Linked DNA regions of Homo sapiens. The protein of the gene in region 1 interacts with the protein of each later gene in a pairwise test. Each region holds a gene or a part of one and is shown in the gene's direction. Other genes may lie near its edges. The genes, in order: SDCBP, CADPS, SCG3, PSMC6, NADK, CCDC106 and TNFAIP8.

Region 1 (4,157 bases):
AAGGAAGGTAGTATTCATTTTCTCATCTGCTGGCCTTTAACACCACAGCAAAGCTAAATTACAGCAATGAACCAACCATTCATATTTTGTAAACTATTCTGCAGTAGCCACTAGGCTGTGGCTTTTAGCATCATACAGTCCCTAGACCTTTTTCTCTCCATTCCAAATCCTGACAAGAGCCTGTGGTTTCCTCTACTTATGCAAAGTAAGCTTTTAATAAATAATGATATACAGAACCAGAGCTTATCAGTTTCCTAATATGGTGGGCAGAATTTGGCAGCAGTGACGCTACAAGCATGTTTTTTCCACATCCTTTCTGTTAATGGCAGAAACAATAGGCCCTGGCATGCTCCTTGGGGCACCCCAACCCCTTTTTTTAGTAGTGTCACATTTCAAAGTAAGTTTGAAATAAGTAGCTACATTTAATGGTTTACAGTACTTAAAATTGGGTTACATCCTTTTGTTTCATTTTTACTGCAAATAACATAATTAAATTTAACTTTGCAGGGAGCTTTCTATATGTATTCTTCAGTATTCCTTGGATTAAAAACAATAGCAATGAAAGAACAGAAATTCATAACTACATACAAAGGAGAAGTATTTTAAATTAATAAGCTGTGTTTTAGAGCAATTTTAGATTCACAACAAAATTGATCAGAAAGTACAGTATACCTTCTGTCCTCACACATGCACAACCTCCCCCAGTATCAGCATCTGCACCAGAGCAGTACATCTGGCTCATTAATATCACCTGAAGTCTACATATTTACATTACATCACATTAGGGTTCACTGTTGGTGTTATATGTTCTGTGGATTTTGACAAATGTATAGTGACGTGTATATAGTCATGTGTTGCTTAAAGACGGATATGTTCTGAGAAATGCCTCATTAGACAGTTTTGTCGTGCAAACATTATAGAGTGTACTTCCACAAATGTAGATGGCATAGCCTACTACACATCTAGGCAGTATGGTATAGTCTGTTGTTCCTATGCTACAAACCTGTATGATCCCACCTGTATGATACAGTAATACTGCATGTTACTGTACTGAATACTGTAGGCAATTGTTACACAATAGTATTTGTGTATCTAAACACAGAAAAGGTATGGTAAAAATACAATGTAAAAGATTTAAAATGGTACATCTGTATAAGGCACTTACCATGAATGGAGCTTCCAGGACTAGAAGTTGCGCTGGGTAAGTCAGTGAGTGAGCGGTGAGTGAATGTGAGGCCTAGGACATTATTGTATACTGCTGTAGACTTTATCAATACTCTATACTTGGGCTGCACTAAATTTATTTAAAAATTTTTCTTTCTCGAATTATAAATTAACCTTAGCTTCCTGTAACTTTAATTTTTTAACTTTCTGACTCTTGTAATAACATAGTTTAAAACACAAACATTGTACAGCTGTATAAAATATTTTCTTTCTTTATATCCTGATTCTATAAGCTTTTTTCCTATTTTTTAAATTTTTAGTTTTTAAAAATCGCTTGTAAGTTTGTTAAAAACTGAGACACACACTCACATTAGCCTAGGCCTGCACAGGGTCAGGATCATCAATATCACTGTCTTCCACCTCCACATCATCCCACTGAAAGGTCTTCAGAGGCAGTAACATGCATGGAGTTGTCATTTCCAATGGTAATAGTGCCTTCTGGAATACCTCCTGAAGGACCTGCCTGAGACTGTTTTACAGTTAACTTTTTTTGTAAGTAGAAGGATATACTCTAAAGGGTATAACACAGGAAATACATAAATGAGTAACATAGTCATTTATTATTATCAAGTATTATGTACCATGCATAATTGTAGATGCTATACTTTTTTATATATGACTGGCAGTGCAGTAAGCTTATTTACACCACCATCACCACAAAGTAATGAGTTGTTCTGTGTGACGGCAGCTATGATGTCACTAGACAGTAGGAATTTTTTAGCTCTTTTATAATCTCATGGGACCACTATTGTATATGTGGTTCATCATTGACCAGAACAGGCAGCACATGACTGTATACCATTGTAGCATTAGACAGAATAGGTTCACTGCTCGAAAAATTCTTTAATGCCTGTTCTTCCTTCCCTTCTAGAAACTCCTGGCAACCAATAATTTGCTTTTGCTTTTGTGTTTTCTTTAGCGTCAGGATGTCGCTCTGTTGCCCAGGCTGGAGTACAGTGGCACAGTCATGGTTCACTGCAGCGTCCATCCTCCTGCCACAGCCTTCTAAGTAGCTGGGACTACAGGCATGCACCACCACACCTAGCTAGTTTAAAAAGAAAATTTTTTTTTCCCCCAAAACGGAGTCTGGCTCTGTCACCAGGCTGGAGTGCAGTGGTGCGATCTTGGCTCACTGCAACCTCCTCCTCCTGGGTTCAAGCAATTCTCCCTGCCTCAGCCTCCCGGGTAGCTGGAATTAACAGGCATCCACCACCATGCCCGGCTAATTTTTGTATGTTTACTAGAGACAGGGTTTTGCCATGTTGGCCATGACAAACATGACAACATGCCATGTTGGTCAGTTGAACTCCTGACTTCAGGTGATCTGCCCACCTCAGCCTACCAAAGTGCTGGGATTACAGGCATGAGCCACTGTGCCTGGCCAAAACAATTTTTTGCATAGGCAGGGTTTTCCTATGTTGCCCAGGCTGGTCTTGAACTCCAGGCCTCAAGCAACTCTCCAGCTTCAGCTTCCCAAAGTGCTGGGATTAAAGGCCTCAGCCACTGTGCCTGGCCTAATATTTTATTATCTCCACAATTTTGCATTTTTCAAAATGTCGTATAGTTGGAATCATAAAGTATGTAGCCTTTTGAGATTGGCTTCTTTCACTTAGTAATATCCACTTAAGTTTCCTCCATGTCTTTTCATGTCTTTATAGTTCTTTTTTTTTTCCCAGTGCCGCACAGTATTTTTTTTGTTAGACATGATTCAAGAAGTAATATAACAAGCCACTAGCTCCTTTTAGCTAATCGGTGGTGAAAGAACTTTCAAAGTTCAACACATGTTCAATTTGTGGATTGTTATTTATAATTATAAAGATTTTCATGCTGTATTTTGTTTAAATCTAGAATGTTTAACAAATTATGAAATAATAAATATTAAAGGATGACTCAACAAGTATATCAGAACATATAATTTTAGTACCATTCAAAGCTTTCATAGGCTTTACTTATTTAAACTAAGCTTTCATATCTCCAAGCATCTTTGGGAATACTCTTGACATTGATTTTAGGGCTAGGTTGAGATACTACTATGAACTTCATTTTTAAAATGATACATTTCCAATAAAGTAAAAAGTTGGTAGAGATTGGTCATACAACTTATTACCAAACTTGTCTCTAATGACATATAGCTATTTCAGAAAGTCAGATCTAATTGTAAAGGATAAAGTATTTCCATCAGTGAGATACTTCATATGATGTAGGCCATCAAGACAGCCCTGAGAAGAGGATACTTGAGCATGAGTAGCATTGATAAATGCTAGAGTGTCAGAGTGTGTCAGAGTGATTTTGGCAAGTTTGTTTAACAGTTACAAATTACATTACCTTGTCATCATCGATTTATGTCAGTGATAAACTGTGCTATTTTCATAATTTCTGATATTTTAAAAGTATTTAGCATAAACCCCTTCCTATACTTGCTGCAATGAAGATAAAGATGATTTCAGTGGGACATGCTTAGTATTAATTTTTTAGGTGTTTTTCTGATATGTGACTTTTATATGAATATGGGTAAGGTTTTTTCTTATGCAAATAAAATATTTTTACTTGGACTAATTAGTAAAAGAATAATGAAAATGTAAAATTTATTCATTTTAGAATGCACTTTGAAAATATTAATTTATTGTGGCAGCACTATGAAGTGCTGGTTATAAGACATGTAGAATGGTACTTCTACAATTTTTTTGTGATAGCCTTAAAAGTATTTAGAATATCAAATATAGTTTTGATTTGCAGATTTCCTTTGGAAAATGTATTGCTGATGTGTTTGAAATTAAACTTTCTTACATAAATCTTCATTGTTTTAGTTTCTTTTTGGAAGTACTGGATTTAGCTTATAAATTATATAAGAATATAAAGTAAGTATAGCATATTGTTAGAATTTTCTTCTTTTCTTTTTCAGGCTCAAACTGCTTTTTCTGCAAACCCTGCCA
Region 2 (3,500 bases), on another chromosome or scaffold:
CTCTAAATAAATTAAAAATAAAAATTGTGTCCGACAGAGGTGGGTTGAGTTCTAGTCCTGTTACACACTGACTCTGGGACCTCAGCTATGTCTGAGCCTTAGTTGCTTCATCTTTAATAGGACCTTCCTTGCCTAATTGCTCTCAAGACTAAATGAGAATATATATACCTGGACAGTTCCATTATTAATATATTAAGGTTAGAATATATTAATATATTAAGGTTAGAAATGAGCATGGTGGTATGGTGTCCATATGCTGCATAGAAATAGAAGAAGAGAGTTGAAAGTTGATAGAATCAATTCACTCCCTGGGCATGGAGGAAGGGAGGTGCAAGATGGAGCAGGGGAAAAGGGCATAGAAAAGAAAAGGGAAAGTACTTTTGCTCCTAATCTAGCACCACCTACCACAAGGTCATGGCCCAAGATCTGCTTCTGAAACTTTGCCCAGAATCCTTTACTTTTTGGTGAAGAAGATTTTTAAGATTTGAAAATACATTTTATTTTAGAAATGAAAATGCACCTTGCCTCAAAGAAGGTAAAATTTGTATTTTTCCAGGTAGAAAAGATGTGTTTCAAATGACCGTGAAAGTAAAACATGCCCACTATAAAAATAAAACAGACAATGTAGAAAAATCTCTGCATTTACATGGTTAAAAAATACTTGCAATCCCATCATCCTAGATAACCAAAATTAAACTTTGGTTTCTATCTTTCCAGGTACTTTCAATGTATCTATGCATGTCAAGATAACTATTTGGCTTGCATATTAAGGTGGGAAATTACCACAAACTATTAAGGACCCACTTCTTTTATTTAACACAGTTGTTTTCAGTCTCCTTCCTACCTTTCCAAAGGTCACACAAATGGCATACTCTCATCAGTAAACTGTCTTATTTCCTATGGTATTCTAAATCCAGAGCCATGTTCCTATCCTCCAATCCCACCTCACCCCTGCCATTGGAAGGCTCTGGTCCATTATAACCATATATCATGGACATCTTTGGATGGTAATGAAAAAATATATATCTTTTTTCATGGCTGCATGATATTCTATTTAAAAATAACAGCTAACTTGTATTACATTCTTAGCCGAATAGTAGGCAACAGGCTAACCAACTTGCAGGCATAATATCACTGAATCAGGATTCAGGGATCACCAAAATCCTACAAAGGAAGGTTGTTATAACTCCCATCTTAAAGGTGAGGAAATTAAAGCCCAGGAAGATTAAGTAACTTGCTCAGGTGGCAAAGCTAGCAAGCAACAGAGCCAGGATTTGAACCCAGGTGTTCTAATACCAGGGCCCATCCTCCTAACCATGATGTCTACCCCTTTCATTATTTATGTGCCCATTTATTAATAGCAACGAGGTGTGTGTTTCTTGCAAACCTTACTTACTCCAACATCTAGATGTTTTTCTTATTTATATTGAAAGGATATGCTTTTTCAGAACAGGAATGAATCTGCTGTGGCTTCTCAGCTTATCAGCTAGCAAATGGGAGCTAGGCCAACCTCATCTGTAATGTGAACAGTCACTAAGTACTGATGTGTTTGTATGTTTCTAAAATGACCTTGAGGTTGCTTGGCTCTGGTGATGGAGGGAAGGACTGATGGATGAGGTCGAGTTGCTGAATTGACTGTCCTTCACAATTCCATATTTATTTGTTTATCTTCCATCTCTCATTATGACCTGTCTGGAAGTTGGCAGAAAAGCAGGGAGGATTTATGGATGTGCCCAGATAGAACTGGGCTTGGGGTTAAAGTCTCTTGTGGCAGCCACTAAAAAGCAAAAACAGAAACAAACACGGATACAAAATACAGACAGAGCTCCCAGCACAATTGAGTTTGAATAGTTGTTTTAGAGACACACAGGCACATCAGTACTTAGTGTTTGTATTCATTATAGGGTGAGGCTGGCCCAGGCCCCACTTCCTCTTTGTCAGACTGAGAAGCCAAGACAGATGATGTGCCTGTAGAAATAGTTTCCTGCTGCCACCTTCTCTCCTCATGGCTGTCTTGTCTCCATTGGGCAATTCATCTTTACTGTCTCCCCAGTCTTTGGCCTCTTTCCTCCATGTTCTTATCATTCCACTCATCTCTCCTCTTTCTGGGATCTGGCAGTTGTATCTTAACACAGGACAGATAGATCCCTCCACTTTTCAAAGTCTTCTCAGTTTGATCCTCAGCAAAGAAGAAAGGCTGGATTCCTTCATTGTTTACCATGAAGGAGAGTGAGACTGATGGAGGTTAGGTGACTTGTCTTCCACTGGTAATTCAGAAGTATTTATTGAGTAGCTACTATGTACAAAGGAAGGGGCTAGTGAAGCAGATGCTATGCCCAGGATTCAGGGTTCACCTGATATGGTTTGGCTTTGTCCCCACTCAAATCTCATCTTGAATTGTAGCTCCCATAATTCCCACGTGTCATGGGGGTACCCAGTGAGAGGTAATTGAATCATGGGAGCAGGTCTTTCCCATGCTGTTCTCTTGATAGTGAATAAGTCTCAAGATATCTGATGGTTTTATAAAGGCGAGTTCCCATGCACATGCTCTCTTGCCTGCTGCCATGCCACATAAGACGTGCCTTTGCTCCTCCCTTGACTTCCACCATGATTGTGAGGCCTCCCCAGCCATGTGGAACTGTGAATCCATTAAATCTCTTTCCTTCACAAATTACCCAGTCTTGGGTATGTCTTTATTAGCTGCGTGAGAACAGACTAATACATCACTCAACCAGTTACACCAGCTGGGACCCAAGTGCCAACATCTTTATTTCTTACCCCTTGTTATCAGGCCCCATGGAAAATCTAGCCTAAGTCTCTTGTTTTAAGAGACCAATATACCGTGTGCTGGTTTCCCGTTGACCTTCTCGCCCCAATCCAGACATAGTCTCGCTCCATATTTTTCCTGCTAGAGGAGTCTGCTTTGCTCTTATAGTTCATTCACTCATTCCACAAATATTTACTGAGCACCAGCTACATGCCAGGCACTGTCTCAGGCACTAAGAAGCAGTAATAGAAACAAACAACGACTACCCTGCCTCCCTGGAACTTATAGTCTAGCTGGAGATCAGATATTTACCAAACAGTCACAAAAACAGTGGCAGATGGCAGCTGTGGAAGGGCTTTAGGAAAAAAGAATCTGGGGCTGAGAGCTTATAACTGAGGCCCATTTCGGGTTTGTGGGATACTAATGTGCATAGATGTAGAGGAGAATATAGCTTCATTGTTGATTGAATGTTTTCAAGTCACCCCTTATGTTTATTAGCACTGACAACAAAGGCTTAACCCCTTAGTGTCCCCACTGCCATCACACTCACCCGGTCTCGTACAAGCACCTCTCAACTGGCCTCCCTGCCTATTTTCTTGGCTCCCTTCATCAGTCTCTTTTCCACATTAAAGCCAAAGAATGTGAACTGGTTTGTGCCGTGTCCCAGCTTAAAACTTTCAATGGCTTTCCAATGCCCTTAAAATGAAGACCAACAACCCTAATCCCCTCCTCC
Region 3 (4,157 bases), on another chromosome or scaffold:
GTTCTCTAAGGATGAGTTTTGTCACCTTAAGCTGCCTTTTTTACATAAAGACACTCTAATACAAGTTCAATTAGAAGTAAATATTTATTTTAGGTGAGTCATAAAATCTTCAGTACACACTGTCTGATTCTGGGTGTGAGGTAGAAGTCCCTGCCCCTACCCCAGGAATTTGCCTGCAAAGGTAGTACATGTGGGGATATTACCAAACTATCTATTCCCTGTATGGAACTGGAATATCAAATCATACAATATATAGAAGGGTACATTGAATAATATGACATGCTATATAAATATGGCATACTATGTTAATAAAAAGTATAATATGGTTTGTATTATTGGTGATAACAATAAATGGAGACTACTTTTCTGTTGCCTTTAGCTTTTCCTTCCTCTTATAGTCACCTAAGAAAGTTTCAGAATGTCCATTATCATACTAAGTTTTTAACATGAAGACCAATTTTATTTCAAACCGAGGGTTTCTGTGGACCGAGAACCACCATAAATACATTTCAAACATATCTGAATATACAAAAGCGAAGTACAGATTATAAGTATAATATGATGCATGAAATAGATCTATGATCACTATGGTGTGAAGTTGTGGTCGTTCTGTCTAGATGATCCAGATGGTCTTCATCAACTAGACGGGACTCCTTTAACCGCTGAAGACATTGTCCATAAAATCGCTGCCAGGATTTATGAAGAAAATGACAGAGCCGTGTTTGACAAGATTGTTTCTAAACTACTTAATCTCGGCCTTGTAAGTCATTTGGTAGGAAATAAACCAAATTCCTAGTGCAGTTTAGAGTATGCCAAGAAGCCAAGTCACTTGCCTCAAGTAGCCAAGTGTTTATAATGTGTCTTCCTTCTACTAGGACCCGTAGGTTTTAAGGACAAGCAAAGCACCATTCTTTTTTTTCTAGGAGTTTATCATCCATCAGAAGAACTAGGCAAGTAGACACACGCCCAAAATGCCAGCTGCTTAAAAACCATAAGAGCCAGAGAATAGCTTATATCCAACTGGCAGTAAGGAAAGGCTTCAGAGGAAGAGGCGTATGAAGGAAGCTTAGAGGGATGGTTAGGATATAACCAGCAGAGGTAAAAGACATGTATGTGACAAAAAAAGAAATAACATGAGCAAAAGCATGTGATGTGTATTTTTGAAACTCCAGGTGATCTAATTTGAATCCACCTCAGCTTGGCTCTTCTGCCCTGACCTGGCCCTGACAGGCTTTATTAAGATGCTAATTTTGTAGGATGTCAAAGGTTATCTGACTATGACCCAAAGCTGTGGAGGGGCAATGCTCAGGGTGTTTCTCAAAATATGTGGTCCATGGGTTTCAACAGATAGAACTAACAGCTTGCATGGTGGGCCCGAAGATACTTCTTCCAGGAGTGCTGAGCAATCCCTATAACAGCCAGCATGTGGTGCAGGCGTAAGTGAGGGCTGTCTGAAAGATGGTTCAGAAGATTCCTCTTTAAAAAATACATGTTTGACTACAGTTTAGTCCACATTATTTTTTAATAACAAGACTGGGAATATAGCAGTTATATATGTTTTGCCTTTTTATGATAGATCACAGAAAGCCAAGCACATACACTGGAAGATGAAGTAGCAGAGGTTTTACAAAAATTAATCTCAAAGGAAGCCAACAATTATGAGGAGGATCCCAATAAGCCCACAAGCTGGACTGAGAATCAGGCTGGAAAAATACCAGAGAAAGTGGTATGTATGTGTATATATGCATATGCATGGGGGTGTGTGTGTGTGTGTGTGTGTGTGTGTGTGTACTTCTATCTGTATAATAATTGCCTTACTTGATACCAAAGAAGATTTGAGGTATGTGGCATTTTTAGCCCATTTATATTCAGGCCAGACATGTTGGCTCAAACCTGTAATCCCAGCACTTTGAGAGGCTGAGGTGGGAGTTGAGACCAGGAGTTCAAGACTAGACCTGGCAACATAATGAGACCCCCATCTCTACAAATAAAAATAATTAGCTGGGTGTGGTGGCACAAGCTTATAGTCTCAGCTACTCAGGAGGCTGAGAGGAAGATCGCCTGAGGCCAGGTGTTTGAGGTTGCAGTGAACTATGATTGCACCACTGCATACCGGTCTGGGTGACAGAGTGAGACCCTGTCTCAAAAAATTAATTAATTAATTAATTTAAAAATATGTATATACATAAAATACCAAAAAGTTAAAAGATATAAATGATCTCTACTCTGAAAATAATGTAAAGATTATGTTATATTCTATTATTTGGTAAAGATTACATCTTATACCCCACAGTAAAATAATACATAATAATATGTGAAGTAACAATATCACATAATAACATCTGTGTGTACAGTCCCAGTGAACTGCAAGCAAACATCTCACAGTTCTTTTGGTATCCAACATCTGTTCACAGCAGATGTCATCATCTGTGCCCAATCCCCCCACAAAGAAGTGGGTTGACTAGATCTTCTGCTACACCAGCTTTTGTGTTCCCCAGAGCTAGCTGCCTAATGCTGCCTCTCTGTTCTTGGCAATGCTCTTCCACCTGCTCCTTCCCCTTTTCATTGGTTTAGATGCCTATTTACCCAGGCTAATTTCATCCTTCCTTCCCTTTGTTGGACTCCTTGCGTCTTCATTTTTTCCTTAGCACCAACCAAGCTGTTGAGATCTTTCTCCCCACCTTGAATTCTCTTTAAAACTTTAGATGAAACTGACCATAAGGGGATATCAAATTCCTCATCTGTCCTTTGATTTTCCTCTGTAAAGCACCCAGACCCATGGCTCCTCATCTCCTCCAGCATCTTATCTCAAATACAAAGACTATAGAGGCTGATGGTTCTGTTTTAGAGAGGAGAGAAAATAGAAATTGGGTCTGGATTTCTTTTTTTTTTTTACTGGATAGCCTAAAAACTTTCCTCTGCTCTCCTTACTTCCAATCCTCACCAGCTGCCATCTTTTAAAGCAGCTTTTGAAGATTCACCCACTCAAAAAAAAAGTTCTAGATTTATCAAAAAAAAAAACCCTTATGACTTTTGCTCAAGCTTACCAGTCTGAGCTAAAATGGACACAGCTATTTCCATAATTCTTCATTCCCATTACATACTCCTATTCACCTATCTCTAAAATGTTCATATGCTTGACCTGTTTACTCATGTTACCTGAATGCATCAATGCAAATAAAACACAAATGAAATATTATTTCAACAAATATTTATTGAATACTAACTCTGTACCAAGCACTGGAAATACCATGCCTATTTAAAAAGACATAATCCCTGACTCATGAAGCTCAAAGTCTAGTGGAAGAGGTAGATCATGTTTAAATCATCATGTATTTTCATTACAATTGCATTAAGTGCTCTGAGGAAAGAAACATGGTTCTATGAGACCTCAAAAAAGGAGGCTGACCTGGACTTAGGCTCAGGAAATGCTTCCCTAAGGAAGTAACTTGAGCTGAGAACCGAAGATCAAATAGGAGTTAACTTGTGAACATGAGAGGCAGCACATAGAGAAGGATGTGTGGAGTATCCAAGCAACTGAAACAAGCACAGTGTTGCTGGCACAGAAAGAAAGAGCAAAAAGAGAAGAGACTGGGGAGGTGGACCCAGGCCAGACCATGCAGCGCCTTATGAGCCATGGATGGACTCTGATCTTTATTGTAAGAACCATGAGAATTTTCTGGTCCCCTGAAGAATTTTAAGCAAAGGAGTTACATGATCAGATTGTTAAAAAGATAACTCTGGCTATAATGTGGAAACGCAGTATTGGGCATAGATTTGGGGAGGGTGATGTTGCAGTTAGCAGGTGAGAAATGAAGGCTGCTTGGACTAGAGTGGCATAGTGGAGGGAGAAATGTGCAAATTTGGGATAAATTTTGAAAGTGGGGCCAACAAGGCTACTGATGGATTGGATGGGGGAAAAGGAAGAAGAGGCAAGAAAGGCTGTTAAATTTCTATCTAGTTCACTGAATGGAGAATGAACCATTTACTAAGATGCAAGTCACTGAACAAAAACCAGGTCTGAGAGAAAGATTTTGTACACTCATCCAGACAGCACTTAAACTTTACCCAAAAATTCCCAGGTGTGACTGCTCTGCTAGGGATAGACATTCTAACAGGCTTTCCTGTATCCTGGCACCAGCCCTCCTGGTGGATTC
Region 4 (4,157 bases), on another chromosome or scaffold:
CATTTTGGATTTTCAGATTAAGAATACTCAGCCTGTATTTCCTATAGATGTAAACATTGAAATAGCTTCATATTGATTTCTCCTCTTATTTTTTCAAGTAACCTCACTTCTTAGCCGTTTTTTCCTTAATTGTTATATTAATCCTAGTGTTTTGCCTATCTTCCTAAATTTGAAGCTCTTTGTAAAATCCTGTGACAAGTGGTCAGTAATTTATATGATTCCGAAATTGTATTGGCACGCAGTTTTTTAAACTATTAAAAAGTAACTTGGGTCGGGCGGGGTGGCTCATGCCTGTAATCCCAGCACTTTGGGAGGCTGAGGTGGGCAGATCACGAGGTCAGGAGATCAAGACCAGCCTGACCAACATGGTGAAACCCCGTCTTTACTAAAAAATACAAAAAAAAATTAGCCGGGCATGGTGGCACACACCTGTAATCCCAGCTACTTGAGGCTGAGGCAGGAGAATTGCCTAAACCAGGGAGGCAGAGGTTGCTGTGAGCCAAGATGGCGCCACTGCACTCCAGCCTGGGCGACAGAGTGAGACTCCGTACTCCATCTCAAAAAAAAAAGTAACTTTATCTTTGAAAAGTAACAACATCCTGAGAGTGAGGCAGATCTAGTAGATTCTAATTTTAGCCAGATAAGCCAAGAAATTATTTAGTATGATTCAACCTAATGTGTAATGTGTTCAGCATGTGCCTGTCATGTAGCAAAGGCATGAGTGATGGTTGCTGGGTTTTGGGGCTTTAAATTTAAAGCATTTTAATAAAAATCTCTAAGGGGAAACCGTGCATTTTTCTCTACTCTCATGAGCATTTAACACATTCTTCCCAGAAGCTGTACATTTCAAAATAAATCTGATGAGCACACCTTTAAAATGCTTCCCTTTCCTTTCCCTAAAATGTTCACTAAGGGATTTTTCTATAAATGCTTTGGTAGCAATTCCCAAAGTCACTGTACCATTGCTGCCTCAAGCTTTGTGTGTTAGTCATTTCACATTTTACACTGAGATTACACAAAGGGGCATGCTTTTAAGGAGCAGGTGGAAATCACTTTGAATTACTTATTTTATAAGCCATTTTGTTAGCATAGAGTTTATAATCTGATATTTGTGTTCTCTCTGGAGGGTAAAAATGAGTGTTTGGCTTCTAAATATTAAACTCTCGTTAGAGTGTTATTCCGTTTTTAAGTGTTGATGTAATATCTTTTGTTTTACAAAACTAGCTTGACAAAAGTAAGCTGAAGCCAGGAACAAGAGTTGCTTTGGATATGACTACACTAACTATCATGAGGTGGGTTTCTTATTCTATTTAGTTCACCTTTTATTTTCACAAAGGGTGGTTTTTATCTGAGATATATGCTTCTTGAGATCACTGAATATTTTGGCACTTTTTCCCTTTTACTAGTTTCTAATTAAGCACATCTTTATGAGATCAGCTACAGGTGCTTGCTTGAGCAAGTTATTTATATGCTATCTGTAGGCTAAGAGAAAATATATCTTTCAAAAGAAAAATACATACCTTTTCATTCTAGATATTTGCCGAGAGAGGTGGATCCACTGGTTTATAACATGTCTCATGAGGACCCTGGGAATGTTTCTTATTCTGAGATTGGAGGGCTATCAGAACAGATCCGGGAATTAAGAGAGGTTGGTACTGTGTGCCTTGTTCTCTGAACTTAGCTAATAAATACTACTAGTTTTAGGATTCTTAACAGGAGAAACAGGATGAAAAAGTACTTTTTGTCTAAATGGTAGTTAAGAATATTATGTATTTACTATTCTTGCTAAGAAGAATAGCACTGAATTTCTAGCTGTGAAAATTACTGTTTTTTTTTATTTGGAGATAATTTGGTGTTAGAAAAATCCTGCTCTTTTTGTGGCAAAGGAACGGAGAAAAAGCTAAAAATAATTGATGTAATCTGATATCCTGTGGTTTTGATTATCATAATAAGTTACTTGGGTCAGAGCATATTTGGATAATGTGTGTGATGAGTTTTTTCCATAACCTCATTAATACTAGCTTCCCACTCTTACAGAAGAGTAGGGTACCTGTTCCTTAAATATTTTATTTTGTTAAAGCTGTTTGCTGCCATTCCAGAAAACCACTGGCTTTAGGATTGTCTTAAATCTTGTAAGCTTTTAGGTGAACAGTCAAATCAGGATTGCCTTACTTCATAGCACAGACAGCTTCTTAACTGTTATCTGTAAAGCAAATTACATTGTCCTATGGATTTTATCCTAAATTAGGCTGTGAATATTTAGGAATTAATGGGAATAATTGGAATGTCTTACACAATCTGATTTAAGCTTTAAGCCAGTTCTCATACTTCAGTACATTAATTTTTTTTGGAACACTTATTAAAAATACACATTACTAGGCCCTCTGAGTGGTTTTGATGGACTAGATTGGGGGTAGGCACAGGAATTAGCATTTAAACAAGCATTCCAAGTGATTATGAAACCAAATTTTTCTTTGACAATACTTGAGGAAGCACTGGTCTAAGTGTAAAAAAAAAAGGCAGTTCTCACCTGTATTAATGAAAGGGCAACAGAGGAAGAACAGGTGCTTCATAAAACGGTGAAAACTTGCTTTCAACAGTGATTTGCTGCATTAGCCATAGGAGCAGAAAGAATCCCATGTATACATGCAGTATCCTTTACTGTCTGCAGATACTTTACACTTTAGAGTATTGATTTCTCTCACTTCTGGCTTTTCCCAGTCACGCTTTATGCACATATGGACACAACTTTTTTTTTTCTTTTGAGACAGGGTCTGGTTCTTTTGCCCAGGCTGGAATGCAGTGGTGCAGTCTCAGCTCACTGCAACCTCTACCTCCCAGGCTGAAGTCATCCTCTCACCTCACCCTCCCAAGTAGCTGAAGGCATGCGCCACCACATGTGACTAATTTTTTTATTTTTTGTAGAGATGGGGTTTCACCATGTTGTCCAGGCTCTTCTCGAACTCCTGAACTCAAGCCATCCTCCAGCCTTGGCCTCCCAAAGTGTTGGGATTTACAGGCGTGAGCCACCGCACCTAGCCCAACACAACTATTCAATAGAAATTTCTCTCTCGGTCAGGCATGGTGGCTCACGCCTGTAATCCCAGCACTCTGGGAGGCTGAGGTGGGTGGATCATCTGAGGTCAGGAGTTCAAGACCAGCCTGCCAATACAGTGAAACCCCATCTCTTCTAAAAGTACAAAAATTAGCCAGGTGTGGTGGTGGCGCCTGTAGTCCCAGCTACTCAGGAGGCTGAGACAGGAGAATCTCTTGTACCCGGGAGGCAGAGGTTGCAATGAGCCAAGATCATGCCATTGCACTCCAGCCTGGGCAACAGACTCTGTCTCAAAAAAAAAGAAATTTCTCTCTTAAGTTACTGGTACTATAAGTAATTTAAATTGGACTTTCAGATCTTCAATTTCTCTAGTCTCTACTTTTCTTCCTTGAATCAGTCTTGAGAGCAGAACATACTGTTCTTTAAAAGCTGCCGTGGCAAAATGCCAACAGATAAAAATTGTATATACCTTTTCTCTTGGTATGTTGTCAAATCCATCCCCCATTTTAGAATTATTTTGTGTTGTATTTTCAAATGCAAACTAGTATAGATCTTTTGAGTTGTGTTTTTTGTTTATATGTTCATTTGACTTAACTGATTTTTTTGTGGTATAATTTTTCATTGAGGTATAATTACATTAAAAAAATGTAGATTCTTAAGTGTACATTTCAAATATGTTTGGACAAGTTATATATCTGTGTAACCATCACCCCAATCAAGTGTGTGGTTTATTTAAAAAACATTATTTGAAATTTTTTAGATTTAAGAGATCTTAAATCTACCTGGAGCAAAACCTCTTAATATAAATGGTTTTACCTAGCATGGAAGTCTAGGTCTATTAAGAATTATGATGTGTACACCTAACTAAGGTGATATTTGACTTAGAGTATTTGAAAGTACATTAAAAATCTTGACTAACTTTTTAAGAAAGATTTAACTTCTTTTCTAGGTGATAGAATTACCTCTTACAAACCCAGAGTTATTTCAGCGTGTAGGAATAATACCTCCAAAAGGCTGTTTGTTATATGGACCACCAGGTTGGTATTGAATTATTTCTACTCCACCAATAAGATAAATGAATTAAGGAATTAAAAAAAAAAAG
Region 5 (4,157 bases), on another chromosome or scaffold:
GCAGCCTGTCTGCCTCGCCCGCCCTGGGGAGCACCAAGGAGTTCAGGTACAACTGGGAGGGATGGTTCCTCTTTTTTTTCTCGTCTGATTTCATAATATTCTTTCTTAAAACGATTATGAAGAATTCTCCTGAGTAGTCTGCGTCGATGCATCCGGAAGGTGAGGCTGGGTCCTTGCCCAGGTGAAGCTGTGCCCTTGAAGGGGGATCCTGGCCCATGGACACCTGCCTGGCGCACGTTCCCAGGTGCCAGCACAGGCACAGGGTGCCACCGTGTTTCTCTATCTGTCTGTATCAGCACAGAACCATCTAACTGGCGCCTACGCTGACCCTTGATGTTAGACTGAAGCGCACTTGGAGAGGAAACTTTTTTTTGAGACTGAGTCTCGCTCTGTCCCCCAAGCTGGAGTGCAGTGGCGCAATCTTGGCTCACTGCAACCTCCGCCTCCCAGGTTCAAGTGATTCTCCTGCCTCATCCTCCCAAGAAGCTGGGATTACAGGCGTGCACCACCATGCCCGGCTAATTTTTGTATTTTTGTAGAGACGGGGTTTCACCATGTTGGCCAGGCTGGTCTTGAACCCCTGACGTCAGGTGATCTGCCCGTCTCAGCCTCCCAAAGTGCTGGGATTACCGGTGCAAGCCACTGTGCCTGGCCTGGAAACATTTGCTCTACAGAAGTCACTGGGGTGTGAGGGGACATCCCTCTTGGCTCTGCTTGTTTTGAGAGGCGAAGGCTGGGGGGTTCTGCACTGTGAGCAGGGCTGGTGGAGGCAGAGTTATGAGCGTGGCCTTGGGCGGGCCCAGCCCTCTCACATGTTGGGCAAGTGGCTCCCTCCTGTGCCAAGAGTGCCCACAGCGCTCACCCTTGCACAATGCTGCTTGGGCAACAGCGCCCCGGGCTTTGCATGACGGTGGCCGCACAAGCACAGCTGTGATGGTGCCTGGGGATGGTGCTCTCGGTTCTGGTGATGGTAAATGTGGTGAGTTTTAGGTGGAAGCTTGCCAGAGCCGGCGCTGCCTAACAAGGATCACGACTATCAAATGCAAGGGGGGCTTTTTGGTGAAAAGTAGTCTTAGAAAGCATGTTGTCTTACCCAGTGAGATGGGAGAGCCTGTAGCGCCTCTGACGTGGTGGCAGCCGTGGAGAAACAGGCTACTCCCACGTTTTCTGTCTACAGAGTCGCTGCCTGAGCCAGGAGGCTACGAGCGCTGGTGGCTGCCTTCATCCCGCAGGCACCACGTCACCACTCAGCCTTTCTCAGATGCCTCGTTGCCTCGTTGTCAGTGGGGGTCGTTGTCCTGTACCTCCAGGCCACCCCAGCGCAGTGACTGCGTGAACAGAATTGCTTTGGGGTTTTATTTTTTTTTCCTGTGGGTTCTTTGGCATAATGCACCATTTCTGTTGCATTCTGAACCTGATGACAGCAGCCCTGGGTCAGAGGTCGCCTCCATAGTGAGTGACAGGCGCCTTCAGGGTGAGGTGGGGGAGGAGGTAGCCAAATACGCCCAAGCATAGCCTGTCCTTGGGAAGGAAACATTAAATCCCAACACCCACTTCGAGAAACATTGTTTTCCGCAATAATCTTTTCAGTTCGTAAGTAAGTAAAATTCTTTTGTAATGTACTTCGTTTTCTTCTTCTTTTTTTTTTTTTTTTTGAGATGGAGTCTTGCTCTGTCGCCCAGGCTGGAGTGCAGTGGTGTGATCTAGGCTCACTGCAAGCTCTGCCTCCCGAGTTCAAGTGATTCTCCTGCCTCAGCCTCCTGAGTAGCTGGGATTACAGGCATATGCCACCACGCCTGTCTAATTTTTGTATTTTTAGTAGAGATGGGATTTCACCATGTTGGCCAGGCTGGTCTCGAACACCTGACTTGAGGTGATCCGCCCACCTCAGCCTCCCAAAGTGCTGGGATTACAGGCGTGAGCCACAACGCCCGGCTAATTTTTTGTATTTTTGTGTAGAGACAGGGTTTCACCGTGTTAGCCAGGATGGTCTCAATCTCCTGCCTCGTGATCCGCCTGCCTTGGCCTCCCAAAGTGCTGGGATTACAGGCGTGAGTCACTGCACCCGGCCTGTACTTACCAATTTTTAAAAGGCTGAGGTAAACAAGTCCGTGACCACTGATGGCCACGCCTGTGTCACCTGTGGAGCAGCCCTCAGGGCACCACGGCTCTCCTGGGGTTGTCTGGCCCTGCGAGGCAGCGGAAGGCCGTTCTTCTGCATTGGGACTTGAGGATTTTGTTGGGCCGTTGCCTGGCCAGCTGTGTGCAAGTTTTCTGAGTTTGTGAAGGGACTGGGAGGCTCCCGGGCACCTAGGACGAGGGCAGCCTCAGTGCTGGACCCTGAGGAGCACAGCGGTCCTGACAGCATTCTCCCCAGGACGCGTGCGGCTGCCACAGCCCCTGGCTGGGTGATTTAACTGTGACCTGGCCATGTTTAAATCACTAGGAAAGTTGTTGAGCCGTTCATCTGGCGTCTTTTATTCATTCATTCATTCATTCATTCATTCATTCATTTTGAGACAGAGTTTCACTTTTTTCAGCCAGGCTGGAGTACAGTGGCTCGATCTCGGCTCACTGCAACCACCACCTCCTGGGTTCAAGCAGTTCTCTTGCCTCAGCCTCCTGAGTAGCTCGGACTGCAGGCACACGCCACCAGGCCTGGCTAATTTTTCTTTTTTTAGTAAGGATGGGGGTTTCACCATGTTGGCCAGGCTGGTCTCAAACTCCTGACCTCACGTGATCCACCCACCTCAGCCTCCTGAAGTGCTGAGATTACAAGTGTGAGCCACTGCGCCCGGCCTACGTCTTTTTTATTGACATGAGTTCAGAGTGAACATTTGTGCTAGAATTTTAATCTAGACGATTTAGAGATGAGATGTTGTCTCAGGTTTTGAGTCCCAAATGCAGATCTAGAGAGGGGTCCTGGAGACACTGAGGAATTCTGATCCCAGGCTGGCCCTGGCCCTGGCATTTTCCTTGTTTGGGCTGAAGCTCTCCCCGGCTTGGGTCATGATCTGAGCGGCGCGTGGGCATGCGTGCTCCTCACAGGTGCCGCTCCAGTGCAGCCATGGACCTGGGCAGAACCTTCCAAGGGCTATTGTGTGGCTGCTGGGCAGATGGAGTTGGCATCTTTCAAATTGCATGTATGCCTTACCGTGTAACCTCCTCTGTATCTGTGTCTGTCACTGCATGTCTGGTTTCAGGCCCTGGTGGCTCTGACACTGCCCTCTCCCCACAGGAGGACACGCTCTCTTCATGGGCCATGCCCGGTGACCACTTTTGGACCAAAGGCCTGTGTGCTGCAGAACCCCCAGACCATCATGTGAGTGCTGGGGCCCCAGGACGGGGGGTTCTTGGAAGGGAGAGAACCCCTAGACCATCATGTGAGTGCCGGGGGCCATGGGATGGGGGAGTCCTCGGGATGTGTGTGGAGTTGTGGGATCGCTGTGTTGAGGAAGATTCTAGCACTTCATGTGAGAAGTACATGTTTAGGTCATTTAAACAAAAAGCCACATGGGCGTCCTCCCTGAACCCCCTGAGTGCAGGCATCCGAGCGGGGGCTCCCCAGCTGTGGCTTTTCCAGTGGCTTTGAGAAAGTGGACGGCAGGCGAGCCGGGGCCTGGAGACCGGGTCACAGCCCGTGGGTGTGGCGGCTTCCACATGAGATCCTCAGGGCTGCCTTTTTGTTTCTTTAAGAGTGAGTGAGAATTCTGGGGTGGGTTGCGTTTGCTATTTGATGGTTCAGTTTGTCAACACATTCTGCCTGGAGGCCCGTCATAGTGTCATGGGAAAAACGCAACAGTGATCGATCTGATATCTGTGTTTTATGTGTAAAGAATTATAATCCAGGCTGGGCGCAGTGGCTCACACCTGCAGTCCCAGCACTGTGGGAGTCCGAAGCAGGCAGATCACTTGGGCCCAGGAGTTTGAGACCAGCCCGGGCAACATGGTGAAAGCCCATCCCTACAAAAAACACAAAAATTGGTCAGCTGCGGTGGCTCACACCTGTAATCCCAGCACTTTGGGAGGCCAAGGGGGGCGGATCACGAGGTCAGGAGTTCAAGACCAGCCTGGCCAATATGGTGAAACCCCATCTCTACTAAAAGTACAAAAATTAGCCAAGCATGGTGGCGCGTGCCTATAATCCCAGCTACTTG
Region 6 (4,815 bases), on another chromosome or scaffold:
ACTGTGTTAGCCAGGATGGTCTCGATCTCCTGACCTCGTGATCCGCCCCCCTCTGCCTCCCAAAGTGTTGGGATTACAGGCGTGAGCCACTGCGCCCGGCCCACAAAAATTTCTTTACCATAGTTAGCTTTAGTTTGTGCATTTTTTTTTCCATCAACTATTATTATTACTATTTGAGACGGAGTCTCGCTGTGTCGCCCAGGCTGGAGCGTGGTGCGATCTCGGCTCACTGCAACCTCCACCTCCCCGGTTTAAGCGATTCTCCTGCCTCAGCCTCCTGAGTAGCTGGGATTACAGGTGTGCACCACCACGCCCGGCTAAATATTTTTTTAAACTGCTGATTTCATCCTATTCTATTGAATTCTCCACCCATGAACCTGTAGTTTGGAAAAGACCAATCTAGGGCAGATGGCTCCCCCTGGAATTTTTGGACCAGGCTGCAGTTAATCTGTAAAGTGGGGAGGGGAGGATCATGGTCACAGCTTTGCAGGCGGTGCAGACATTTAGATTCTCCCTCCATCGGGTTAAGACCTTGCTCTTATAAGGGCTGGCCACAGTCCAGAGCTTGGATGCTTCTGGTGAACAGGAGAGGCAGGTGGAGCTGAGCCTGAAGCTTAATAAACATCTGCTTATTCATTCATTTTTCTTGCCTATTTTGTGCCAGGCACTGTGCTAGGCCTCATTTGCTCTTCCGACCTGTTTTTTTGGGAGGAAGAACAAATCTTCCGTTCATACTCCCCAGAGTGGGAAAGAGCCTCCCAGAGGCTGCCATCATACCCCACCATCTGACCTCAAATAATACCAGCAGCGCTCCTCTCTTCAGCCCTGACGATGGCCAGGTGCTGGGCTGAGCTTCTGTGTGTCGCATCACTGCATCCTCACAATAAATTTAGAAGGGCTTGTAATTTCCCCATTTTGCAGGTGAGTTAACAGGCTGGGGAGGAGCAGGAACAGTCAGGACTGGAATCTAGCTTTGCTCCAAAGCCAGCTCTTAATTACCAACATGGGGATGGGGGTGGCGTGTTCCTGGCCCTCATTTTCCGGGAGAGGGGTAACTCCCCCGATTTTGGCCCCCACATCCCTGAGAACCTTGGGGTCTGGCTGTAGGAGGTAGGGGAGCTCTGAGGGGTCCGCGCTGGCTAGTTCCTGAGAGAGCGTTAAAAGTAGATTCTCCTTTCGCTCCAACTTTCTCGGTGTCTCAAACACTCTCCTGCCTTCTGGGCCCATTGGGCACACCGCCACCCAATCCGGGGACCCCCGGAGACTCGCCAGCTCTCCAGGATGGGAATTTCGTGATGTTCCCTGCCTGAGCTTCGGGGAGGGCGGGGGAGTGCTGTAAGGGGCTATCGCGCAAGTGCAGACCCTCTGCTTCTGCCGCAAACGGCGGGCCTCACCTGGACCCGGGGACTCTTCAACGAGGGGCGCTAGCCTGGCCCGACTGGGCGAGTCCCCGCGTCCCTGCCCGTTCCGTCGCTCAGTTCCACGACACGCTCCCCTGCCGCCCCGCCTGTTCGCGGGTGGGTGGGCGCTTCCCTCGGCTCCCCGTGACACTTTGCAGACGCTCCCCGGCGCCGGGCATGGGCGCCGCCGCCGTCGGTCCCCGAGCCGGATTCCGCGAGCGGGTGGGTGAGCGCGGGGGGCCTCGGCCCCTCGGACCCCGGGCACCCGCGGGCGGGGGATGGTGGCCGCGTTTGCACCCCCGCCCTAGTGCATGTTCCCGCTGGAATCGTTCCACGACCGCTCCCCCTCCCACCCGCGGGACAAAGGGCGGGGGCGGGGGGGGCGCACCCCCACGCGTGACCTTTCCCCGTACTGCGCACGCGCCCAGCCCCCACCACCGGGGGACGGTCCGCCCGCCCACGCGAGTGCGGGGGAGGGGTGTGGGGGCCCCGAAGGTAGAGGAGGCAGCGCGCACGGGCTGGACCTCCTCCTACCCTGGGAAGTTGGGGCAGTTTCCCCCTGCACCTGCCTCTTCCTTAGGCCTGGCAGTGGCCCGCGATGAGAGAGGGTCCTTCCCCTTCAGGCTAGGTGTCCCTGGTCAGGCGACCCCTTGGGGCACCCAGCAATTTAGGGCTTCAGCTTCCTTTTCCTTCGATACCCAGGAGCCCACGTCCCCAGCTCACTTCTCCCCCAGGACCTAGGCGGCTGGGCCCCCTGCCCCTGACTCCAGGAGCCCAGGAGTTTGAAGCCCAGGCGCGTTTTGCCTCAGTCCTGGGGTCCAGGCTCCCTCCTCCCTCAGACCAGGGGTCCAGGCCAGAAGGTCCCTCCTGTCTCACTTCACCTCCCCCAGGATGGACCCTCCAGTCCATCTGCGTCTCTCCATTTGTGGCTGCCGTTTCTGTCCAGTGCCCCTGAGGCCCTCGGCTGCTGGGGTCCGTAGGAAGCCGCGCCATGAATGACCGGAGCAGTCGGAGGCGGACAAGTGAGGAAGCTGGGTCCCCTTCCCTACCCTGGGTCCCAGTGCGGTCGGCTCCAGGCTGCCGTGGTTGGGGGGTGGCCTGAGAGGCCCGGGGAATTCTCTGGGGTAACCCGGGGCCTCTCCTCTCCAGTGAAGGACGATGAGACCTTCGAGATCTCCATTCCCTTCGATGAGGCACCCCACCTAGACCCACAGATCTTTTACAGTCTGAGCCCCTCTCGGAGAAACTTCGAGGGTGAGCTGAGGGGGTGTGGAGGGACTGGAGTCAGCTGGGAAGCCAAGCCCTGAGTCCCAGGGTGTGACCTGGTCCCCCCACCCTCGCTGTGTCCCTAGAGCCTCCGGAGGCTGCGTCCTCCGCCCTGGCTCTGATGAACAGCGTCAAGACCCAGCTGCACATGGCTCTGGAGAGGAACTCCTGGCTGCAGAAGCGCATCGAGGACCTGGAGGAAGAGAGGGACTTCCTGCGGTGCCAGCTGGACAAATTCATCTCTTCTGCTCGGATGGAGGCAGGTGTGTGTGGGGTGCTCTGATCCACATGCCTCCCTGTCCCGCTACTGGGTACCCGCTCACCCAGACTCAAGGCTCCACTGTTTGGCTGGCTGGGTGGGACCTGCCATGTTGGCCCTATCTGCTAGTCCCCTGCCTGTTTTGGGCCCCCAGGCCCAGCTGCCTCCTCACTTGATTCCAGGGCCTCATCCCCATGAACTGTCTACTGGGGCCCGTCCTCCTGCCTTCTCCGTCAGCTCCCCAAATCCCATCAGCCTCCAGTGCCCTGCCATCTGCTTCCTTGGCCCATGGTGACTTCAGGGACCCTGGCACCTGAGAGCCCCTCTCTTCTGACTCCTAGGGGGACCTTCCTTCATCTCTTTGGCCAAGAGGCCCACCCTAGTTCTTTGGGTTTCCTCAGGGGGCCCCTGCTCCTCCTCCCGTCCCTGTCTTCTCCAAGATCCAAGAGTCCAGCCATCCGGCCTCCTCCTGTCCCCCCCTCCCCTCTGTGACACCAGGGGCCATCTTCCCACCCACCCTGTCCCATCCTTGGTTAATGAGCACTCCTTCCCCATCAAAGACATTAAGTCCCTTCCTTTGTGGGCCTTTTTGGGTGGTGACCCCAGCAGGTGCTGTCCCTCAAACCCTGCCTGATTCCTGGGCAGTCCCCACCCACATACCTTGCTCTGCTATAATTCATGGCCAGAAGCAGCCCAGATAGCTCCCACAGCAGCACCCAGCCCCAGCCAGTTCACAGCTAGCGTCTTCTCTTGACTGGTGGGACCCTGTGCCCTGTTTAATACATTTTGGACCCCAGCCCCATCCTCTTCCCCGGATGGTCAGGCCGTTTGCCCGACAGCCCATGGCCTGGAGAACCCACACTCTACCCCACCTACCCTCATCTCAGCCTTGCTAGCTCCTTGGCTGGGAAGACCCCTCAAAAGCTCCCACATCTCTCTTTGTGAATTCAACCCTTTCCCCAAAAATCCTAGGCAAGGGGGCTATGGTCTTGTGGTGTCTCTGTTACTGGAAGCCCAGCATCTGGGGATCTGGCTTTCCCTCTGCTCGGGAACAAACCACCTCTGGCTGCCCTTGGGCCTGCCACTGTCTCCTCTCACTGATGGTTCCATCCTGGGTGACTGACTCCTTTGCACAGACAGTTTGGCCCTGCGGCTTCGGCACTTTCCCAGTGGGGACCCTGGCACCAGAGCCCTCCCCTAACCCGCCTTCTAGAGGAATCTGTGTCTGGGCCTCCGCCTGCCGGCTCCCTCTGTCTAGATGGAGGTGGGACCCAGCCTGCTGGACCCAGGGCCCCTGATTTCTCTCGGTCTGACCCCCCGACTCCAGCCAAGGCCTTGCCTGCCTCCTGGGTTTCCAGAGGCTACTCTCCAGAGGTCCCGCCCAGTCCCCAGAAATTTCTCCCTCCCCTATGGGAACCGCGCATAGTCACAGGGGTCCTGAGGCCCCTGGTCGGCTGCCTCCGTAAGACCTCTTGCCAACCCAGGCCTCTGAGAAAATGCTCCACCCATTACCACCTCCCACAGACCCCAACTGGCTCTACTCAGCCACCAGCGTCTCTACCGTACTCCTTGTCTCTCTGTCTCTTTAGGGGACCAGCCCAGGTTGGGGGATCCAGTTCGGGGACTGCAGCCTCTCTCAGTCCCGGGACCTGTGATGGGATGTCTGGTCCCTTGGTTCATGTGTGTGTCTCCATCTCCCCAGAGGACCACTGCCGGATGAAGCCTGGGCCCAGGCGGATGGAGGGGGACAGCCGTGGTGGGGCTGGGGGCGAGGCCTCGGACCCTGAGTCAGCAGCCTCCTCCCTCAGCGGAGCGTCCGAAGAAGGCAGCGCCAGTGAGAGGAGGCGGCAGAAGCAGAAGGGAGGTGCTAGTCGGAGGCGCTTTGGGAAG
Region 7 (4,157 bases), on another chromosome or scaffold:
TTTTCTGGAGTATAAGAAACAGAGTGAATGACTTAGCTTGCCACTGTAATGGTGCCTGTCACTGGTTCTTAACCACTTGGGGGGATGTGCATATACCCCAAAATGTGCATTCCGTATCAGGTTAAGGACTTCAGATGTATTGATTCTCCCAAGACTATGTTCTGTGTGACAGCCTCCATCTGTGTGGCATAAGGCCAATTTTGGGATTAAGGTGCCTGGCACTTGTCTTCTCTCTCTAGTTGATAAGATTGCCTCCAGCTTGCTGCCATGGTCGTTGCTTCTGACCCTTCCAGGGCAGCCCCCTTTAGAGTTCATATCTGTGCTGCTTCTACTGGGTCTCCCTCCCTCCCTCCCTCCCTCTCTTTCCTTCCTTCCTTCCTTCTCCCTCTCTCTTTCCCTCTGTTGTTTCTTCTCTATGCTGTTGAATTTCTGACTTTGGGATTTTGAGTATGAAAGCTGGTGACACTGACACATCACTAGCTACTCCGAGCGTTCATTGCTTTTCTCTGGAGCACTGCCAAATCTCCATGTAGGGAGGTCAACTCTTCGCCTGCTGACTTCTTATGACAGGGTTCGTTGTTTGTTCTGGCCACTTTCTTATCACCAAAGCTGACTTTTTACTAAGTCCCATTAGATTTAGAATTATTTAGATACAAGAGAGCTAAGGTTTTATATATTTATTTAAAGAACTTTTATTAACAGACAACAGCCAGACATGCTTTCCAAATTATTATCTTTTCTATCCTTCCTAATATTGGAAACCTGGATCGAGTTTTAACTAGGCAAGAATTTGCAATGTATGTACATCTGTTGTCATCACTGTTAAAGAGTCCCAAGTATAATAGATTTGAGGGGAAAAAATTATGTATTTACTGGTAAGACTGTAAAGAAAATGATTTGAGTACTTTATTAGAAAATTCTCAGTGGGAGTAGTTATGTTATGGGGCATTTTTGTTAATTTTCATAAAACTAAGTATTAATAACAAAGGACTTTTTTTTCCTTCTGAGCATATTTTTTCTTGAATATTTGGGTCAGTATATTTTAACCATATTTATCTCTAACTTTATAATTTTGATGCTAAAGCCAGAATTCCCTAAATATCACTTTGCCTTACAGCAAATGTTGCTGAAATGGCCAAGGGAGGAGATACAGAGACAGAGAGGGAGGGAGGTAAGATAAGTAATGTAAAATAACATTTACACCCTATTTCTAGAAAATAATCTTAAACAGTTTTAATGTGGTGGTAATGCTTTGTATTTTTTTTTAAATACAGCATTATTCTTCATTAATGAACAATTTACATGTCTGTTTCCAAACACAAGTGAATTGATCTTAAGAGGCAAAAAACTGAATGAATATTTTCAGCACTTTCTCCTTGGGGAACATCTCCTGTTTACATCTTAGTTGCTTCCCAGGACATGCCTTAGGTATCCCTCTGGCACATGTCTAAACATAGATCCAGCCAGAAGTAGAGGTGGGCCTGTGTTTAATCTCCTGCTACAGTTCAAGTCAGAACTACACCTTGCTTTTACTCTAAATATTTGCATTATTGTCCTTGGATGTTTTCCCATTATGCACAACAAATCTCTCCTCTTTAAAAGAACTGGTTGATGACAGTAAGAGAAATCATACTCTGGAGCGCACTTAGAGGGAAGAAAAACCACATGTTTAGTGAGGTAAAACAAATACCTGTTTTTCTACCTTTTAATACAACAAACAAAAACACCCACTAATGTATTTACAACTCTCGTTTTACAGGCCAACATGTTTTCATAGAAAAGTATTTGAGTATATTGTGGATGAGATAGGGGAAATTGATTGCTGCTTCTGGACCAGCCACTCTCTAGGCCTGCAAGTTGACACAGTGAACATGATACACAGAATCTTTGCTCTCAGAGTTTAAATCCTAGTAGGGAGAGGCAGACAATAAAAATGTAGGCAAATGAAGAGGATTTAAGGAACAAGGAGGTGTGATAGTTAGCAAAGAACTTACATGAAGCATCTTTTTTTTTCTTTTCTTTTCTTTTCTTTTCTGAGACAGGGCCTTGCTGTGTCGCCCAGGCTGGAGTACAGTGGCATGATTATAGCTCACTGCAGCTCTGTAGCCTTGAACTCCTGGGCTCGGGCAGTCCTCCCACCTCAGCCCCCTGAGCAAATAGGACTACATGCCCAGCTATTTTTTTTTTTTTTTGAGTTTTTTTTGTAGAGACAGGGTCTTGCTATGTTGCCCAGGCTGGTCTCAAAGTCCTGGGCTCAAGTGATCCTCCCACCTTATCCTCCTAAAGTGCTGGGATTACAGGTGTGAGCCACTGCGCCCGGCCCCATTTGCAAATTTCATTTCTTGAAACTCTGGCTGATATGTGAAAAGAGATAGAAAGGGGTTTGGACTAGGCTGCTGTCCGTGGAGATGGAGGGAAATGGATAGAATTCAGAGAAATGCAGGAGGAAGGTGGAATGGAAAGAACTTAATAATGGACTGGGTGAGGGAGAGAATGGTATGGTGGATGATCCCCAGGTCTCTGATTTGATTGAGCAAAAGGTTGGAAGGGATGCTATTAATTGAGATCATAAAGAGTGAAAGAGGAGCACTTAGTAGGGAGGCAGGAGAGAATCAAAGATCAGTTTTGCATATGGTAAATTTGAGATGCCTGCAAAATAGTCAAGGAAAGAAAAATCTTGAATGCACTTACAAAATGAGTCCAGAAAAGAGGTCAGGGCTGAGTTATGGCTATGGGAGTCATTGGCACATGGGTGGTATCTGAAGCTGTGGCAGTGGATGAGATCACACAGGGGTGAGGATAGACTGAAGGAGAAAAACTTGATCCAGGACTAGCTCTGAGATACACCAGACTTTTAAGGGATCTGGTAGAGCATGTGGAACTGACAAATGAGCCTGCACAGGAATGGCTAACAGCAGTTAATTTGCAAGAAAAAGAAACAAACTTCATGAGCACAGACCACACATCCCTGGCCAGCGACTCTCAGCCACAAGCCCCAGTTGGCTTCAAAAAAACTTTCTCTAATGCTGGAAAATAAATCTACTCATGCATGTCTTCTTGGTGGAGGGGGAGAAAGAGCTTCAGATGGTGGAGGGGAACAAGGAGCTTCAACCTCATTTAAAAAGACGACTTCACTGGAATAACCCAAAGAATAAAAGGAAAGTGTGACACAGCTGCTGTGTTTCTGGAGCGGGGTTTGAAGTTCCTCTAGGATAAATATGAAAGCCTCAGAGATCAACTTCTCTATCTTGATTCATACTTGATTACCAGTAAATGGGGAATGATCTTGCTTAGTTGGCAGTAGATTTGCCTGTTACACACTCTCTTGCAGGAAGTTGAAGTGCTGTATCATAGAGTTTTTGTTTTCCATGTTTGAAGTTAAATGGGATATTGAGATTTAATCAGAAAAGTAGCTGAGAAGAGGTGTAAACATGAAAGTCCAGTCTTGGATAAAGGAGAAATCTTATGAATACCTCTCCCTCTGGTTTCAATATTTCACAACATAAAGTATGTCCAACTGATAGACTTGTAGTAAATCCCAGGTAAGATATTTGTAGACTGTGCCATGTTCTAAAACATTAAAAAAAAACACAATAACATTTCAACTTTATATGTAATATATTACTGAAATCCTGGTTATCTGCTGAGTAGCTGAAAATGGTTGGGTATCCCTATATAAATCAAGTTTATTGATTTTTTTTGAGGTCTATATCAGGAGTTCTAAGATGAAATATGGTCCCTGGTTTTAATGTGATACTGTTAGCTACATGGATGCCATTTCTTTTGACATAAATTCTTTAGTGTGAATTAATCTTTATACTCTTTTGCAAATCATTGAAGAATAGGAATAGAAACAGATTTCTGCTTAAATGATAAAAACATAAAACATTAAATGATGGAAACTTCTCCATAAAGTTGGCTGTTTCTCACACATTTTCACTTTCCTTCTCTTTTTCAAAATATATTTTAGTTCTTCTGCAGTTTCAGTTCATGTTTCAGAAGTTTAAATTTCGACATTTGTGAGGGGACCCTTTCTTATTCAATCAAGACATTCTTTGAGTGGATGTATGGCACTGTATATTTATAAATGATGTTCAGGTCATAAGGAACCATTTTGCAGCTGCCTCTACTATATACCACGAACTACTTTGGTCCAA

The links.
Region 2: the proteins of SDCBP (region 1) and CADPS interact in binary tests that used the Homo sapiens proteins (3 or more experiments, as listed by UniProt).
Region 3: the proteins of SDCBP (region 1) and SCG3 interact in binary tests that used the Homo sapiens proteins (3 or more experiments, as listed by UniProt).
Region 4: the proteins of SDCBP (region 1) and PSMC6 interact in binary tests that used the Homo sapiens proteins (3 or more experiments, as listed by UniProt).
Region 5: the proteins of SDCBP (region 1) and NADK interact in binary tests that used the Homo sapiens proteins (3 or more experiments, as listed by UniProt).
Region 6: the proteins of SDCBP (region 1) and CCDC106 interact in binary tests that used the Homo sapiens proteins (3 or more experiments, as listed by UniProt).
Region 7: the proteins of SDCBP (region 1) and TNFAIP8 interact in binary tests that used the Homo sapiens proteins (3 or more experiments, as listed by UniProt).

Annotation. Positions count from the first base shown.
Region 1 is NC_000008.11:58,566,761-58,570,917, forward strand, and holds part of SDCBP (syntenin-1), read left to right. Parts: intron 1-4,126; coding exon 4,127-4,157. UniProt on the Homo sapiens protein: Multifunctional adapter protein involved in diverse array of functions including trafficking of transmembrane proteins, neuro and immunomodulation, exosome biogenesis, and tumorigenesis.
Region 2 is NC_000003.12:62,756,917-62,760,416, reverse strand, and holds part of CADPS (calcium-dependent secretion activator 1), read left to right. Parts: intron 1-3,500.
Region 3 is NC_000015.10:51,687,643-51,691,799, forward strand, and holds part of SCG3 (secretogranin-3 isoform 1 precursor), read left to right. Parts: intron 1-617; coding exon 618-760; intron 761-1,576; coding exon 1,577-1,726; intron 1,727-4,157. UniProt on the Homo sapiens protein: Member of the granin protein family that regulates the biogenesis of secretory granules. Acts as a sorting receptor for intragranular proteins including chromogranin A/CHGA. May also play a role in angiogenesis.
Region 4 is NC_000014.9:52,709,877-52,714,033, forward strand, and holds part of PSMC6 (26S proteasome regulatory subunit 10B), read left to right. Parts: exon of another isoform or gene 1-1,224; coding exon 1,225-1,292; intron 1,293-1,533; coding exon 1,534-1,648; intron 1,649-4,004; coding exon 4,005-4,092; intron 4,093-4,157. UniProt on the Homo sapiens protein: Component of the 26S proteasome, a multiprotein complex involved in the ATP-dependent degradation of ubiquitinated proteins.
Region 5 is NC_000001.11:1,761,117-1,765,273, reverse strand, and holds part of NADK (NAD kinase), read left to right. Parts: coding exon 1-46; intron 47-3,238; coding exon 3,239-3,322; exon of another isoform or gene 3,323-3,381; coding exon of another isoform or gene 3,382-3,383; intron 3,384-4,157.
Region 6 is NC_000019.10:55,646,656-55,651,470, forward strand, and holds the start of CCDC106 (coiled-coil domain-containing protein 106), read left to right. Parts: upstream 1-1,556; 5' UTR 1,557-2,391; coding exon 2,392-2,422; intron 2,423-2,549; coding exon 2,550-2,654; intron 2,655-2,752; coding exon 2,753-2,929; intron 2,930-4,627; coding exon 4,628-4,815. UniProt on the Homo sapiens protein: Promotes the degradation of p53/TP53 protein and inhibits its transactivity.
Region 7 is NC_000005.10:119,386,622-119,390,778, forward strand, and holds part of TNFAIP8 (tumor necrosis factor alpha-induced protein 8), read left to right. Parts: intron 1-1,122; exon of another isoform or gene 1,123-1,131; coding exon of another isoform or gene 1,132-1,171; intron 1,172-4,157. UniProt on the Homo sapiens protein: Acts as a negative mediator of apoptosis and may play a role in tumor progression.